Linked DNA regions of Homo sapiens. The protein of the gene in region 2 purifies or fractionates together with the protein of the main gene of each other region. This does not show direct contact. Each region holds a gene or a part of one and is shown on either strand. Other genes may lie near its edges.

Region 1 (3,500 bases), on a different chromosome or scaffold from region 2:
TTACTCTTCCTTCACCTTTAACCTTGGAAATCCATAGCAGCCCTTAAAGAGCTCCCTTTTCTTCTGGGGCAGAAAGGAGAGGGGCCTATCTGCAAAAGAGTGAGATGGGACTCCTGCATAAACTTGCTGAATTGCCTCTTAAGCAACAAAGGAAAGGAACAAATAGCTAATTTATTGAGCCTGTCCATATCCTGTTCTGAGGAAGGTATAGGAGTTGGCTGAATTTTTCACTACTGCCCTATGAAGTAGATTCGTGTTTATCTCTGTTTGACACATGAGGGAATTGAAGAAAAGTGTATCTGGCTGGGCGTGGTGGCTCATGCCTGTAATCCCAGCATGATGGGAGGCCGAGGCAGGTGGGTCACCTGAGGTCAGGAGTTCGAGACTAGCCTGGCCAACATGGTGAAACCCTGTCTCTACTAAAAATACGAAAATTAGCTGGGCGTGGTGGCGTGGGCCTGTAGTCTCAGCTACTTGGAGGCTGAGGCACAAGAATCGCTTGAACCCAGGAGGCAGAGGTTGTGGTGAGCCAAGATCGTGCCACTGCATTCCAACCTGGGCGACAGAGCGAGACTCTGTCTCAAAAAAAAAAGAAAAGGGCATTGAAGTGGAGGGCATGGGAACTGGGTTCTGCAGGCTGGCTGCGAGCCAGTCCTTCTCCCGTCAGGCAGTGTGCAGTCCATGGTGGGCATCTGCAGGAACACAGATGGAATGTGTATATCCCATGCCACTGCCTGAAAAGAGAAGCATGGGCCAGAGTGACCTGTTTCTTTTTCCTTTTTTTTTTTTTTTGAGACAAGGTCTTACTTTGTCACCCAGGCTGGAGTTCAGGGATATGATCTCAGCTCACTGCAGCCTTGACCTCCCTGGGCTCCCACCTCAGCCTCCCAAATAGCTGTAACTACAGGTGCATGCTCCCACACCTGGCTAATTTTGGTATTTTTTATAGAGATGGAGTTTCGCCACGTGTCCAGGCTGGTCTCAAACTCCTGGCCTCATGTGATCCTTCCGCCTCGGCCTCCCAAAGTGCAGGCCACCATGCCTGGCCTGAAGTGGAAACTTGATAATTCCAGAACGGAAACTTGATATTACTGCAATAAGCAAGGTGGATATATTGAAACAATTAAAATTTAAAAAGTTGTTAACCTCTGTTAGGCTCTGGACCTAAGGCCTGTTCCTCCTTTTGTTCCAAAGGGACGGTGGCAAATGTTAGGTTCACTCGTACCCTGTCAAGACCTTCTGGTTAAGATCATCTACAGCAGGGGTCCCCAATTCCTGGGTCACAGACCCATACTGGTCCAGTGGTCCCTGGCCTGTTAGGACCTGGGCTGCACAGCAGGAGGCAAGCGTAGGGTGAGCGAGTGAAGCTTCATCTGTATTTACAGCAACTCCCCATCACTTGCATTATGCCTGAGCTCTACCTCCTGTCAGATCAGCAGCATTAAATTATAGGAGCACGAACCCTACTGTGAACTGCACATGCAAGCGATTTAGGTTGGGCACTCCTTATGAAAATCTAATGCCTGATGATCTGTCACTATCTCCCATCACCCCCAGATGGGACTGTCTAGTTGCCAGACAACAAGCTCAGGGCTCCCACTGATCCTACATTACAGTGAATAGTATAATTATTATATTACAATGTAACAATAATAGAAATAAAGTGCACAATAAATGTAATGAGCTTGAACAATCCTGAAACCATCCCCACCCTAGCCCCACCATATCCATGGAAAAATTGTCTTCCACGAAACTGGTCCCTTAGGCTAAAAAGGTTGGGACTGCTGAGCTACAGGTTTGAAACAGAATTGCAAAGGGATTTGGTGTTTTTACCAAGAGTTTTATCTTACTTAACTCTATGTCTTGTTCCCACCTGTCAGAGTGGAAGGTACTGCCCAAGGTTAGTGGGTCATCTAAGTGTTGATACCTACCCCTGGTTTCCAGGGTATGCCTATACTGGGTTTTACTTGTTTGTTTATTTATTTATTTTTTGAGACGAAGTCTTGCTCTTGTTGCCCAGGCTGGAGTGCGATGGCGTGATCTTGTCTCACTGCAACCTCCACCTCCCTGGTTCAAGCCATTCTCCTGCCTCAGCCTCCCGAGTAGCTGGGATTACAGGCGCCCCACTAATTTTTGTATATTTAGTAGAGACGGGGTTTCGCCATGTTGGTCTTGAACTCCTGACCTCAGGTGATCTGCCTGCCTTGGCCTCCCAAAGTGCTGGTATTACAGGCATGAGCCACCATGCCTGGCCTTACTTGCTTATTTTTATTTTATAAGGTGGGTTTGTGTGTATACACACACACACACACACACACACACACATTTTTTTTAAGAGATATGGTCTCACTGTGTTGCCGCAGGCTGGTCTCAAACTCCTGTGCTTGAGTGATCCCCCCGCCTTAGCCTCCCAAGTTGCTGAGATTACAGGCACAAGTCATTGCTCAGTTCTTTTTGTTTTTAAACAGATTAGCACTTTAAGAAATTGAGCTATAATTTACATACCATAATATTCACTCATTTGATTTAGTAATTTTTTTTTTTCTTCTGGAGACATGGTCTCCCTCTGTCATCCAGACCGGAGTGCAGTGGCCCAGTCACAGCTCACTGCAGCCTTGAACTCCTGGGCTCAAATGATCCTCCTGCTTCAGCCTCCCGAGTAACTTCAACCACACGCAAATGCCACCACACCTGACTATATTTTTAAATTTTTTTGTAGAGACGGGGCCTTACTATGTTGTCCTTGCTGGTCTCAAACTCCAGACTTGAAACAGTCCTCCCACCTTGGCCTCCTAAAGCACTGGGATCACAGGTGTGAGCCACCATGCCTGGCCTGATGTAGTGATTTTACGTTTTCACAGAGTTGTACAACCATCATCACTATAATTCAAGAACGTTTTCATCACCCAGAAGGAAACCCTATACCCATTAGAAGTTACTCCCCATTCCCTCTCCTCCAGTCCCTGGCAACACCCAGTCTGCTTTTTGTGTCTGTGGATTTGCCTGTTCTGGATATTTCATGTCATTGGAATCGTGCAATATGAGGCTTTTCGTGTCTGGCTTCTTTGACGAGACATCATGTTTTTGAGGTCTATCTCCATTGTAGCATGCTTCAGCACCTCATTCCTTTCTCTGGCTGAGTAATATACCACCATGCGCACAGACCATTTTATCCATTCATCTGTTGGTAGACTCCGTCTCCTTTTCTTTGTTCTTGTGATTTATTTGTTGAAAACTCTGGGTGTTTGTCCTCTAGTTGACATTCTCTTCCCTAGTAGGGATTTTGCAGATCACATCCCCATGGTGTTGGTTAAGGTGTCAGAGCTGTGCTGTGCAATACCATAGTCACTCGTCACACATGGCTATTTACATTAACAAATTAAAATGAAATAAAATTACACACTCAGTTCCTCAGCCACACTGCCACACTTCAGCTGTGTGATAGCCACAGAGGCCAATGGCTTCTGTACTAGGCAGTGCAGATAGAGAACGTTTCATCA
Region 2 (4,585 bases):
AACTTTCTATAGAAAGATATCTCTTATCTTAGGGGTGTCCAATCTTTTGGCTTCCCTGGGCCACGTTGGAAGAATTGTCTTGGGCCACACATAAAATATACTAATGATAGTGATGAGCTTAAAAAAAAAATCTCAAAAATAAAATTTAAGTTTACGAATTTGTGTTGGGCCACATTCAAAGCCGTCCTGGGCTGCAGGCTGGACAAGCTTCCCTTATCTAGTAGGTTGCTATGAAAAAAATAGAAACACATCTCTCATTCATTGCTAGGATACATCTAGGGGACAAAGGACAGAGAAGCAAGCAGGCAAAAACCCACCTTGAGCAGAAGATGGCACAGAGGAATGGCGGTGGGAATTCTCAGTCTGGTGAGCTGGACAATCCAAGCAGAGGGCAGGCTCTACGTCTCAGAAAGACAGCTTTTCTGTCTTATCTCCTATGAATAAGTTTCGAGCAGCCTGGGAGTTGAATGATCTCTTTGAACAGATGTTCCTGCTGCTTCCCCATCAACCTCCCTCATACACATGTACGCCATAAAGTTTAAATTTACTATCATGGTGGCCATAGACAATGTTAGGTAGCTCCATAAAGACAGACGGGGTGTTTCATTCTTAACTGTGATCTTAGTAACTAGCACAGTACTGGGCACTTAGTAAATATCTACTGATCTAAATAGTGTGGTTTGAGGCCTCTTGTTCCTGGCTAAAAATCCTTGGCAAGAGTCAATCTCCACTTTACAATAGAGGTAAAAATCTTACAATGGATATTCTTGACAAAGCTAGCATAGAGACAGCAATTTTACACAAGGTATTTTTCACCTGTTTAATAACAGTGGTTTTCCTACACCCATAGGGTGCCACCAAGGGAGGAGTGCACAGTTGCAGAAACAAATTAAGATACTGAAGACAACACTACTTACCATTTCCCGTATAGCTAACCACCAGTTCAACTGTACATGTATGTTCTTATGGGCAATCATGCCAGGGGTTAGGCAAAAACCTGTGTTCTGAACCAAAGAAGACTTAAAACTGCTCCCATAATTTGTGAATTTCTTGAAATTTTGCGGTTTTTTGAAAATTTTTTAACAACTGGTAATCAATTTATGAAAACAGTTGACTTAAGCATTTGCAATGGTGACTTCCATCTCAACTCCTGGCTCAATACTGATGGAAGTAATCTGCTTAACTATCTGAGGACTGCGCAAGTCAATGAGTCGCTTGTGGATTCTCATCTGGAAACGATCCCATGCCTTAGAACCTTCACCGTAAGTTTTTCTTGTAGTGATTCTCAAAGTCTTGGTAGGCATTCAAACTGGTCCTTTCACTGATTCTTTTCCTTTGCTCCTCAGATCAAGTCAGCACACACCTTATCCAGGGATTTTACGTTGCAACTCGTTAGAGTGATATGAATTCGGTGAATTGCCACCTCTGACTCCACGGGTGTTTTTCTGGTATGTTTAAAAGCCATGGCTGCTGCAAGGCTTCCTAGCCAGCTTCCTGACAGACTTGGTCCTCAGGCAACAGCAAAGAGCAGTGAGTCAGGAGCAGGAGCAGGTGGACCACAGCTCCGCACCACCTATGACTGTGTCTTCCTCAAAGAGAAAATGTCTTTTAATGTCGGAAAATATTTATACACTTAGAAAAATCCATACACAAAGAATAAAGCAACTCTCCCATTTGCTACTGACATCAGATCCCCAGTTTAGAGTCAACCACAGTAACACAGAACTCTTATACTAGCATGAACATATTTATTCACATACCTTTCTAAAACACGAATGGTAGATACTACATTTTGGTTTTCAAACATAGCTTGTTTTATTATAAACAAACATCATTCTCTGGAAATTAAAAGCTTTGATAATTTCAAATTATTTTTAACAATCAGTCACTAACGGAATGCAAAAGGCAATTTTATTATTATACATTAAAACGTAAATCACATTTGAGCACGAACACTAACAAATAGGCTCATTTGTCATCTTTATGCCGTTTCTCTTCACTGGTTTCTTCCATATACAAAATAAATTCTTCTTTGTCATAACCCATTAGATGGATATAGTCTTCACGGTTTGGAAAGAGCACTGGATTAACTAACAGTGATTTTGTTTTAGCATAAAATGTGGTAAATACATGTTTAGCATCTGGAATCTTCACATCATTCTGGTGAAACACTGTACTCGTTTCTGCAAGCATAGCATTGTAGGTAATGGCTTTATAAGTGTCTGTTGTGGCCTCATGGTACAATCGAATGACATAGCCTTTTGTAATAAAGTGAAGCAGCACTGGGGTGATCACCGTAAAGCTTCCCATGATGCCATAGAATATGATTTGAATAGGCAGAGGCACACTTTCAGAAATAGCATTATTTTGTGTAAAAATGTATGGCAGAAATGTAAGGCCAATCAGACTCGTAGAATAAGAGAAACATTTCACACCTAAATGGGAAAAAAAGAGAGAGGATCAATACTTTTAAATTTTATAAAAGAATCAATCTATCCCACTAATTCTTCCATTTTTCTTCTTACTGTATCAGCTCAAGACAACAAAATCAAACCATAAATACAGTGCTTATTATATTCTAAGCTCTGTTTTAAGGACTTTACATATTTTGACTTCAATGTCCCTGCTACTGACCATTAGAATGCACTGCCTCTCCAGGCAGGAAATCTGCTTTAGGGTTTAAGTGGCCCTACCTCAGTTCCACAATAAAGTAGTTAATATTACTTAAAGATCCTTACTAATATTGTACTACAAAAGTTGATTCAGATAGCAGATTATCAAACAAAACTCTCTATTAACAAGCACTCCAGTATATCTAACATAAAATATTCAAACATGGGAAATTCTATCAGGCTAAGTGCCCAGGATTAAAACAGCAAATCACCAGAGAAATAAAACCAGTGGTTAAAAAACATATCGGACGGCCAGGCGCATTGGCTCATGCCTGTAATCCCAGCACTTTGGGAGGCTGAGGCAGGTGGGTCATTTGAGGTTAGGAGTTCGAGACCAGCCTGGCCAACATGGTGAAACTCCCATCTCTACTAACAATACAAAAATTAGCTGGGCATGGTGGCAAGTGCTTGTAATCCCAGCTATTCAGGAGGCTGAGGCAGGAAAATCCTTGAACCCAGGAGGTAGAGGCTGCAGTGAGCCAAGACTGCACACTGCACTCCAGCTTGGGAGACAAAGCGAGACTCCATCTCAAAAAAAAAAAACAGAAACATATGGGAAAGGTATTCAATTTCTTTAGTAAGGAAAGACATTCAAGTTAAAACAATGAGATAAGCAGCCTGGCCAGCATGGCGAAATCCTGTCTCTACTAAAAATACAAAAATTAGCCAGGCTTGGTGGCATGCACCTATAATCCCAGCTACTGGGGGTGCTGAGGCAGGAGAATTGCTTGAACCTGGGAGGTGGAGGTTGCAGTGAGCCCAGATTGTGCCACTGCACTCCAGCCTGGGCAACAAGAGCAAAACTCCGTCTCAATAAATAAATAATAAAAAATACAAAAAAAACACTGAGATACCATTTTTACCTATTACCTTAGAAAGATTAAAAATAAATGACTTCTAGCAGAGTGCAGTGGCTCATGCCTGTAATCTCAGCACTTTGGAAGGTGTAGGCAGAAGGACTGCTTGAGACCAGTTTGAGACCAGCCTAGGCACCATAGGAAGACCTGTCTCTACAAAAAAAATTTTTTTTAATTAGCCAAGGCTGGTCTGATGGTAATGAGTTATCAGAACTTAACACTGGCATCACTAAAGTTGGTATACAATGTCCCCACTGCTAAATTTGACTAGCTTAAAAAAAAAAAAATCAGCCAGGTGTAGTGGCACATGTCTGTAGTCCTAGCTATTTGGGAGGCTGAGGTGGGAGGATCACTCGAGCCCACAAGTTTGAAGTTGCAGTGAACTATGATCACACCACTGCACTCCAGCCTAGATGACAGAGACCCTGTCTCTAAAAAATAAAAATTATTTTTAAAAAATGGCTTCTAAACTGTATACTTCAAAATGATTAAAGTGAAAAATTTTATGTTTATCTAACCACAATAAAAAATGACTTAAAATGTAAATTTACCTTACCTTTAATTTATAATTTTAATACGATCCTAATAAAAAATACCATCTGTTTGGAAAATAAAGTTGAGATCCTAAACAAGTTGATTATAAAGTTTATTTGGAAAAACAAAAGCAGCAAAAAATAAAAAAATAAAGCAATGAGGGGAAGTTACCCCTTCGAAATATTAAAACATAATAGAGGCCGGGCGTGGTGGCTCACGCCTGTAATCCCAATACTTTGGGAGGCCGAGGTGGGTGGGTTACTTGAAGTGAGGAGTTCAAGACCAGCCTGACCAACATGGTGAAACCCTGTCTCTACTAAAAATACAAAAATTGGCCAAGTGTGGTGGTGCATACCTGTAATCCCAGCAGGAGGCTGAGCCAGGAGAATCGCTTGAACATGGGAGGCGAAGAGTATGGTGAACCAAGATCATGCCACTGCACTCCAGCCTGGACAACAGAGTGAGACTCTGTCTCAAATAAAAATCTAAAAATGCAAAGGTCTCTACATCTTATCAACACAC
Region 3 (3,500 bases), on a different chromosome or scaffold from region 2:
ATAGGGATTTGTAATTTTGGGTAACTCAGTATCTAGTTTTATGCTATTATGATCATAGAAACACTATTGTCAGCTGACTCATGTAGCATATTGGGATTGTTTTTCCTTTCCAGTACAAACTTTTTGTTTTCTCTGAAGTTAATAATTGTTCCATCTTTTCTCTTGTTTAGTTTTCTATGTGCTTACTAATTTACCCCCAGACTCTTCCCAAGCTGTCTGAATCTCCTCTCAATACATGAAAGCAGATTGGACATTCTATCCCTTTTGGTCTTCTTGACGAAACTTCTTCCAGAACTTGCGACATGCTGTAGTCTGGATTTGTGAACCTCTTGGCCTACTGTGAAGCTGCTCTCCTGTGCTCTTTCACCATCAGCTGGGGCATCTGTCATCTCTCTCTCATGTTGGGACTCGTGTTTCTTGTCTTTCATATTTTCTTATTTCTTGGCTTTTTCTTTTTCTTTTTTTTTTTTTTTAAATCAGAGCACATATTCCCTGTACTATCTGGAAACAGAATATGGGAAGCAAAAATTTTAAAATGGCCCTTATACTTCATTGATAATTTGTTTGGCTGGGTTTGAAATTATTTTCCCACAGAATTTTGGAGGCTTTGCTCCATTGTCTTTTAGCATCCAGTGTTGCTGTTGGTAAATCTAATGTTATTCTGAGACTTAATCTTTTGACTACTTCTTCTCTCTGCCTTTGGAAGCTTTTTAGAATTTTCTCTTTGTCCCCAGTGTTTTGAAATTTCAGGTAATGTGTTTTAGTATGTGTTGGGCCACTCTGTGAGTCCTTTGAATCTGGAATCTCATCCTTCAGGTCTGGGATATTTCCTTGTTTTATTTCTTTGGCTTTCTTCCTCTCCATTTTTTTTCTCTGTTTTTTCTTTGTGGAACTCTATTATTATTCAGGTGTAGAATTTCTGGGTCTCATCCTCTAATTTTCTTTTCTCTCACATTTTTCATCTCTTACTCTTTTTGTTACATTTTCTTGGGAGACTTACTTAATTTTAATCTCTCAACCTGTTTTTAAAACTCCTGCTTTCCTATTTTTTACTTCCACAAGCTCTTTTTTCTTCTTATGGTGTTCTTTTTAAAAATAGTTTATCTCTGATAATTTTTTTTTAAGATCTCTTCTCTCTTCATAGTCTGTTGCCTCCAAGTTGCTTTTCTTCTGTTTGCTTTGCCCTTTTCTTTCTTCAGATGCTTCATAATCCTGTGTTGTCTTCGATATGAGTGAGATATTAAAAAGCTCTTGGAAGCTATGTGGATGGGGGTGAGGCTTGTCAGTTACAGGCTTTGCTCTAATGTGATTGATATGGTTTGGCTCTATGTCCCCACCCAAATCTCATCTTGAATTGTAATCCCCACGTGTTGAAGGAGGGACCTGGAGGGAGGTGATTGGATCATGGGGGCAGTTTTCCCCATGCTGTTCTCATGATAGTTAGTGGTTTCTCACGAGCTCTGATAGTTAAAAAGTGTTCAGCAGTTCCCCCACTTGTTCGCTTTCTCTCCTGCTGCCACATAAGATGTGCCTTGCTTCCCCTTCACCTTGCGCTGTGATTGTAAGTTTCCTGAGGCCTCCCCAGCCACAAGGAACTGTCAGTCAATTAGACCTCTTTTCTTTATAAATTACCCAGTCTCAGGTGGTTCTTTATAGCAGTGTGAAAATGGACTAATATAGAAAACTGGTACCAGGAGGGGGGCATTGCTACAAAGATACCTGAAAATGTGGAAACAACTTTGGAACTGGTTAATAGGCAGAGGTTGGAACAGTTTGGAGGGGTCAGAAGAAGACAGGAAGATGTCAGACAGTTTGGAACTTCTTAGAGAGTTGAATGGTTTTGACCAAAATGCTGATAGAGATATGGACAATGAAGTCCAGGCTGAGGTGGTCTCAGATGGAGATGAGGAACTTATTGGGAACTGGAGCAAAGGTCACTCTACTGTGCTTTAGCAGAGAGACTGGTGGCATTTTGTCCCTGTCCTAGAGATCTGCAGAACTTTGAACTTGAGAGGGGTGATTTAGGGTGTCTGACAGAAGAAACTTCTAAGCAACAAAGCATTCAAGATGGCTTTTTCTGAAAGCATATGGTCATATGCATTCACAGAGAGATGATGTGAAAGTGGGACTTATGTTTAAAAGGGAAGCAGAGCATAAAAGTTTGGACAATTTGCAGCCTGACCATGCAGTAGAAAAGAAAAACCCATTTTCTGGGGAGAAATTCAAGCCACAAGCTGCAGAAATTTGCATAAGTAATGAGAAGCCAAATGTTAATAGCCAAGACAATGGGGAGAATGTCTTGAGGGCATTTCAGAGATCTTTACAGTAGCCCCTCCCAGCATAGGCCCAGAGGCCTAAGAGGGAAAAATGGTTTCCTGGGCCCTGCTGTTCTGTGCAGCCTCGGGACATGGTGCCCTGTGTCCCAGGCACTCCAGCTCCAGCCATGGCTAAAAGGGGCCAAGGCACAGCTCTGGCCATTGCTTCAGAGGGTGCAAGCCCCAAGCATTGGAGGCTTCCCCATGGTGTTGGGCATGCAGGTGTGCAGAAAACAAGAGTTGAGGTTTGAAAACCTCGTCCGGCCGGGTGCGGTGGCTCACGCCTGTAATCCCAGCACTTTGGGAGGCCAAGGCGGGTGGATCACAAGGTCAGGAGATCGAGACCATCCTGGCTAACATGGTGAAACCCTGTCTGTATTAAAAATACAAAAAAAATTAGCCGGGTGTGGTGGCGTGCACCTGTGTCCCAGCTGCTGGGGAGGCTGAGGCAGGAGAATAGCGTGAACCCAGGAGGCAGAGCTTGCAGTGAGCCAAGATAGCACCACTGCACTCCAGTCTGGGTGACAGAGCAAGACTCCATTTCAAAAAAAAAAAAAAAAAAAAAGAGACAACCTCCTCCTACATTTCAGAGGCTATATGGAAACACCTGGATGTCCAGGCAGAAGTCTGCTGCAGGGGTGAAGCCCTCATGGAGATCCTCTACTAGGGCAATGCAGATGGGAAATATGGGGTTAGAGCCCCCACACAGAGTTCCCAATGGGGAGCCTAGTGGAACTGTGAGAAGAGGGCCACTGCCCTTCAGACCCCAGAATGGTAGATCCACCGACAGTTTGCACCATGTGCCTGGAAAAGCCACAGGCATTCAATGCCAGCCTGTAAAAGCAACCATGGGGCTGTACTCTGCAGAGCCACAGGGGCAGGGCTACCAAAGGCCTTGGGAGCCCACTTCTTACATCAGCATGCCCTGGATGTGAGACATGGAGTCAAAGATTATTTTGGAGCTTTAAGATTTAATGGCTGCCCTGCTGGATTTCAGGCTTGCGTGGGGCCTGTAGCCCCTCTGTTTTGGCCAATTTCTCCCTTTTGGAATGGGAGCATTTACCCAATGCTTGTAACACCAGTGTATCTTGAAAATAACTAATTGGTTTTTGATTTTACAGACTCATAGGCAGAAGGAACTTGCCTTTACTCAGATGAGACTTTGGCTTGTAATTTTGAGTTAAT
Region 4 (3,500 bases), on a different chromosome or scaffold from region 2:
TTTTTTTTTTTTTTCTTTTTTGAGACGGAGTCTCACTCTGTTGCCCAGGCTGGAGCGCGGTGGCACAATCTCAGCTCACTGCAACCTCTGCCTCCCAGATTCAAGCAATTCTCCTACCTCAGCCTCCCGAGTAGCTGAGATTACAGGCACCCGCCACCATGCCCAGCTAATTTTTTGTATTTTTTAGTAGAGACGTGGTTTCTCCATGTTGTCCAGCTGGTCTTGAACTCCTGACCTCAGGAATTCACCATCTTTCAATTCAACATGCATAGTTCACCATCTTGAATTGGAAGCCCTTGCTTTCATTATTTTGTAAAAGGTTTTTTTTTTTCTGATTATAAAAGTAATTTGATGAGTTGGGTGCGGTGGTGTGCGCCTGTAGTCCCAGCTAATTGGGAGGCTGAGGCGAGAGGATCACTTGAGCCAGGAGATCCAGGCTGTGGTGAACCGAGATTGCACCACTGCCCTCCAGCCTGGGTGACAGAGTGAGACCCTGTCTCAAATAATAAATAAATAAAAGTAATTTGTTTTTTCTTCAAGTTACCCTGCTGCACAGAGAGAACTTCATTAACATTTTGGTGTATTTACTCCTACTATTTCCCTTCAGATAGCCGAAGAAAAATAATAGTTTAGAGAATTTCACATGGGTGTCTGCACAGCCCAGGGCGGGAAGTGGTGTTCATCACCTGGAGACCCTGGTCTGGACCTGGCTCCTCTCTGTGAACCCCACCTGGGCCCACCTCTCCTCTCCTGGAGCCCCAGCAAGGGTTCCCAGCTCCAGTGAGTCCTCTCACACCCAAGGTGGTGATGCTGTCCTCTCCCCAGAGGACAGGCTGAGAAACACCGGGCTTGTGGTTGCATTCTCAGGTGTCTGAATTCTCTACAGGAAGATTTGCATGTTCTGCCTTTGGTTTGATGACAGTCTGGTTGCCCAGGCATGGCCCTGATGCCTCACAGCCTGGGTCTGTGCCTGTGGTAGGGAGTTCGGGTGCCAGCTGTGTGCTGAAGTTGTAACTGCTCCTGCGCCTTTTGTAGTTTTCTTCACTCCATCTTGGCTGGATTTGGGAGGATCATGTGTTCTCGAGTGTGAGAAACACAGGCAACCACGAAGCGTTTGACTTACTGACACACACATTGGGTTGGACCCTGGTGATGCCGTGTCTGAGGAGTCTTAGGCCGGGTCTCCACCTCTTCTGTGGCCGGCTTTTTCGATGTACTTTATCTGCAGTAACGTCACAGCCCTCCAGAATCCGCCCGGTCTCTAGAGCACAGTGGAAATTCCTTCTGCCCAGAAGAGCCATGGTCTGCCCTTTGTGGCTCCCAGCTCCACTCCCCTCGCCTCTCCCACCGTTTGCTGGTGGTTTGGCCCTGGGCTGGCTTCCGCGGCCTCCGCGCTGGCACAGGTCTTCCCTCCCAGGCCTGGGCCTTTCCAGCTGGTTGGGCAAGGCTGAGATAAGGATGTAGACTTGAATTCACTGCTAGCTGGGGGGTTGGTTTTGTTTTTGTTTTTTTAAGTATTATTTTTTTAACACATTTCAAGTCAAGAAAGTGCTTTTTAATGCCTGATTCACCGTAATGGCTGGGCTAGGTTGGAGGCAGTACTGACGTGAGGCCTGGAGCGGCCCTGGGACCTAAGCAAGGCACCGCCGCCGGGCTGCAGAGCAGGGCTGCAGGTGCACTTAGCTTCTCCCATACCCCCCTCCGCAGCAGTGGTCTGAGAGCCTCCATCGGCCAGGTACGGTCAGGCCCTGCACAGTCAGGCCCTGGGCTAGCATGATGGGGAGACAAGTGAGGCCCCTGTCTACGCTCCGGTGGGAGGGAGGCATCAGCACAAGCACACACAGACATCTCAGATCCTTTAAAGACGCTGATGAGGTTGAGGTGATGTTGGACAGTGGCAGGGGACGGGGGTGGGGCCGGGGGCAGGGGCAGGGGCAGGGGCGGGGGTGGGGATGAGCTTCCTCCAGTGAATGCGATATTGTGAGCTGGTTGGCGGAGCTAAGTTTTGGGGTGAGGCTCTGTGGACCGTGTTGAAGTCCTGGCCGGCTCTCACCCCAGTAGGCACACAGGCACACAGCACCATTGGGGTGATGTGGCTGGGGGTGTCCCAGAGCTGTGCAGGGAGGGTCTCACAGTGAGACTGGGTGCTGGGCAGTGACTCGGTCTGTGGGTACAGGGGTCAGCAGAATGGGAAGCAAGCCCAAGGAGACACATTGGCACCAGAATGAAGACAAGGCCGGCCGGTGCCTGTAGCATGTGACTGCCCCGTCTGCAGAGAGGCTGTGCTGCGAGCCCCACCCTCTGGGGGCTTCAGGCCGAGTGGGGATGTCTGGGTGCTGACCCAGGCATCGCAAAGCACACTTCCTGCCGGGGTAACTGCTGATGATTTTTAGGTCTGTTATTTCAGAATCGTTATAGCTAGGGGCCATTATTTTGAAAACCTGAACAAAAAGAATTATTCACTGTGTTAATACCACATTTAGTGACTGTTGAGCTGAATGTGGCTGAGCAGAAGAAAGCACCTGCTGTGCTGATGGCTGACTGTGGACCCGGACCGGGACCCTGAGTGCTGCCCCACTCGAGGGAGGGGCCCAGAGCAGCCTCCTTCCTCTCCTCCCAGGCGAGCCTTTCATACCTGTCCTTCTCTCAGACTTTCCCTCCTACTTCATGCTCGCCCATGCCTGTCACGCAGACCCTGCCTGACCTGCACCTGCTCCCACACCCGTGGTGGATGAGCCCCATCACCCGTACCTGTACCCCCCTCACCCGCTCCTGTACCCCCTCACCCGCTCCTATACCCCCTCACCCACACCTGTACCCCCCTCACCCGCTCCTGTACCCCCTCACCCGCGCCTGTGCCCCCTCACCCGTGCCTCTGCCCCCCTCACCCGCGCCTGTGCCCCCCTCCCCAGCGCCTGTGCCCCCTCACCCACGCCTGTGCCCTCCTCACCCATGCCGGTGCCCACCACACCTGCGCCTTTGCCCCTTCACCTGTGTCTGCACCGCCCTCACCTGTGCTGCCTTCACCTGCACCCCCTCACCCACACCTGTGCCACCCTCGCCCGCACCTGTGCCCCCCTCACCCACGTCTGCACTGCCCTCACCTGTGCTGCCCTCACCTGTGCCCCCCACCTGTGCCTGTGCCCCCCTCACCTGCTCCTCCCTCACCTGCTCCTCCCTCACCTGCTCCTGCACCACCTTCACGTGCGCCCCCCACCTACATCTGCACCTCACCTATGCTACCCTCACCTGTGCCCCCCCACCCGCACCTGTGCCCCCCTCACCCACGTCTGCACTGCCCTCACCTGTGCTGCCCTCACCTGTGCCCCCCACCTGTGCCTGTGCCCCCCTCACCTGCTCCTCCCTCACCTGCTCCTCCCTCACCTGCTCCTGCACCACCTTCACGTGCGCCCCCCACCTACATCTGCACCTCACCTATGCTACCCTCACCTGTGCCCCCCCACCCGCACCTGTGCCCCCCTCACCTGTGCCTGTGCAGC

The links. The genes of interacting proteins can lie anywhere in the genome.
Region 1: the proteins of TMEM70 (region 2) and ARMC6 purify together in Homo sapiens (co-immunoprecipitation; one large-scale study listed by IntAct). This does not show direct contact.
Region 3: the proteins of TMEM70 (region 2) and CPT2 purify together in Homo sapiens (affinity purification with mass spectrometry; one large-scale study listed by BioGRID and IntAct). This does not show direct contact.
Region 4: the proteins of TMEM70 (region 2) and MAEA purify together in Homo sapiens (affinity purification with mass spectrometry; 2 studies listed by BioGRID and IntAct, with this or other methods). This does not show direct contact.

What each region holds. Positions count from the first base shown.
Region 1 is NC_000019.10:19,036,603-19,040,102, forward strand, and holds part of ARMC6 (armadillo repeat-containing protein 6), read left to right. Parts: intron 1-3,500.
Region 2 is NC_000008.11:73,979,005-73,983,589, reverse strand, and holds the end of TMEM70 (transmembrane protein 70, mitochondrial), read right to left. Parts: intron 4,512-4,585; exon of another isoform or gene 4,419-4,511; intron 2,436-4,418; coding exon 1,969-2,435; 3' UTR 807-1,968; downstream 1-806. UniProt on the Homo sapiens protein: Scaffold protein that participates in the c-ring assembly of mitochondrial ATP synthase (F(1)F(0) ATP synthase or complex V) by facilitating the membrane insertion and oligomer formation of the subunit c/ATP5MC1 through its interaction.
Region 3 is NC_000001.11:53,203,324-53,206,823, forward strand, and holds part of CPT2 (carnitine O-palmitoyltransferase 2, mitochondrial isoform 1 precursor), read left to right. Parts: intron 1-3,500. UniProt on the Homo sapiens protein: Involved in the intramitochondrial synthesis of acylcarnitines from accumulated acyl-CoA metabolites.
Region 4 is NC_000004.12:1,292,891-1,296,390, forward strand, and holds part of MAEA (E3 ubiquitin-protein transferase MAEA), read left to right. Parts: intron 1-3,500.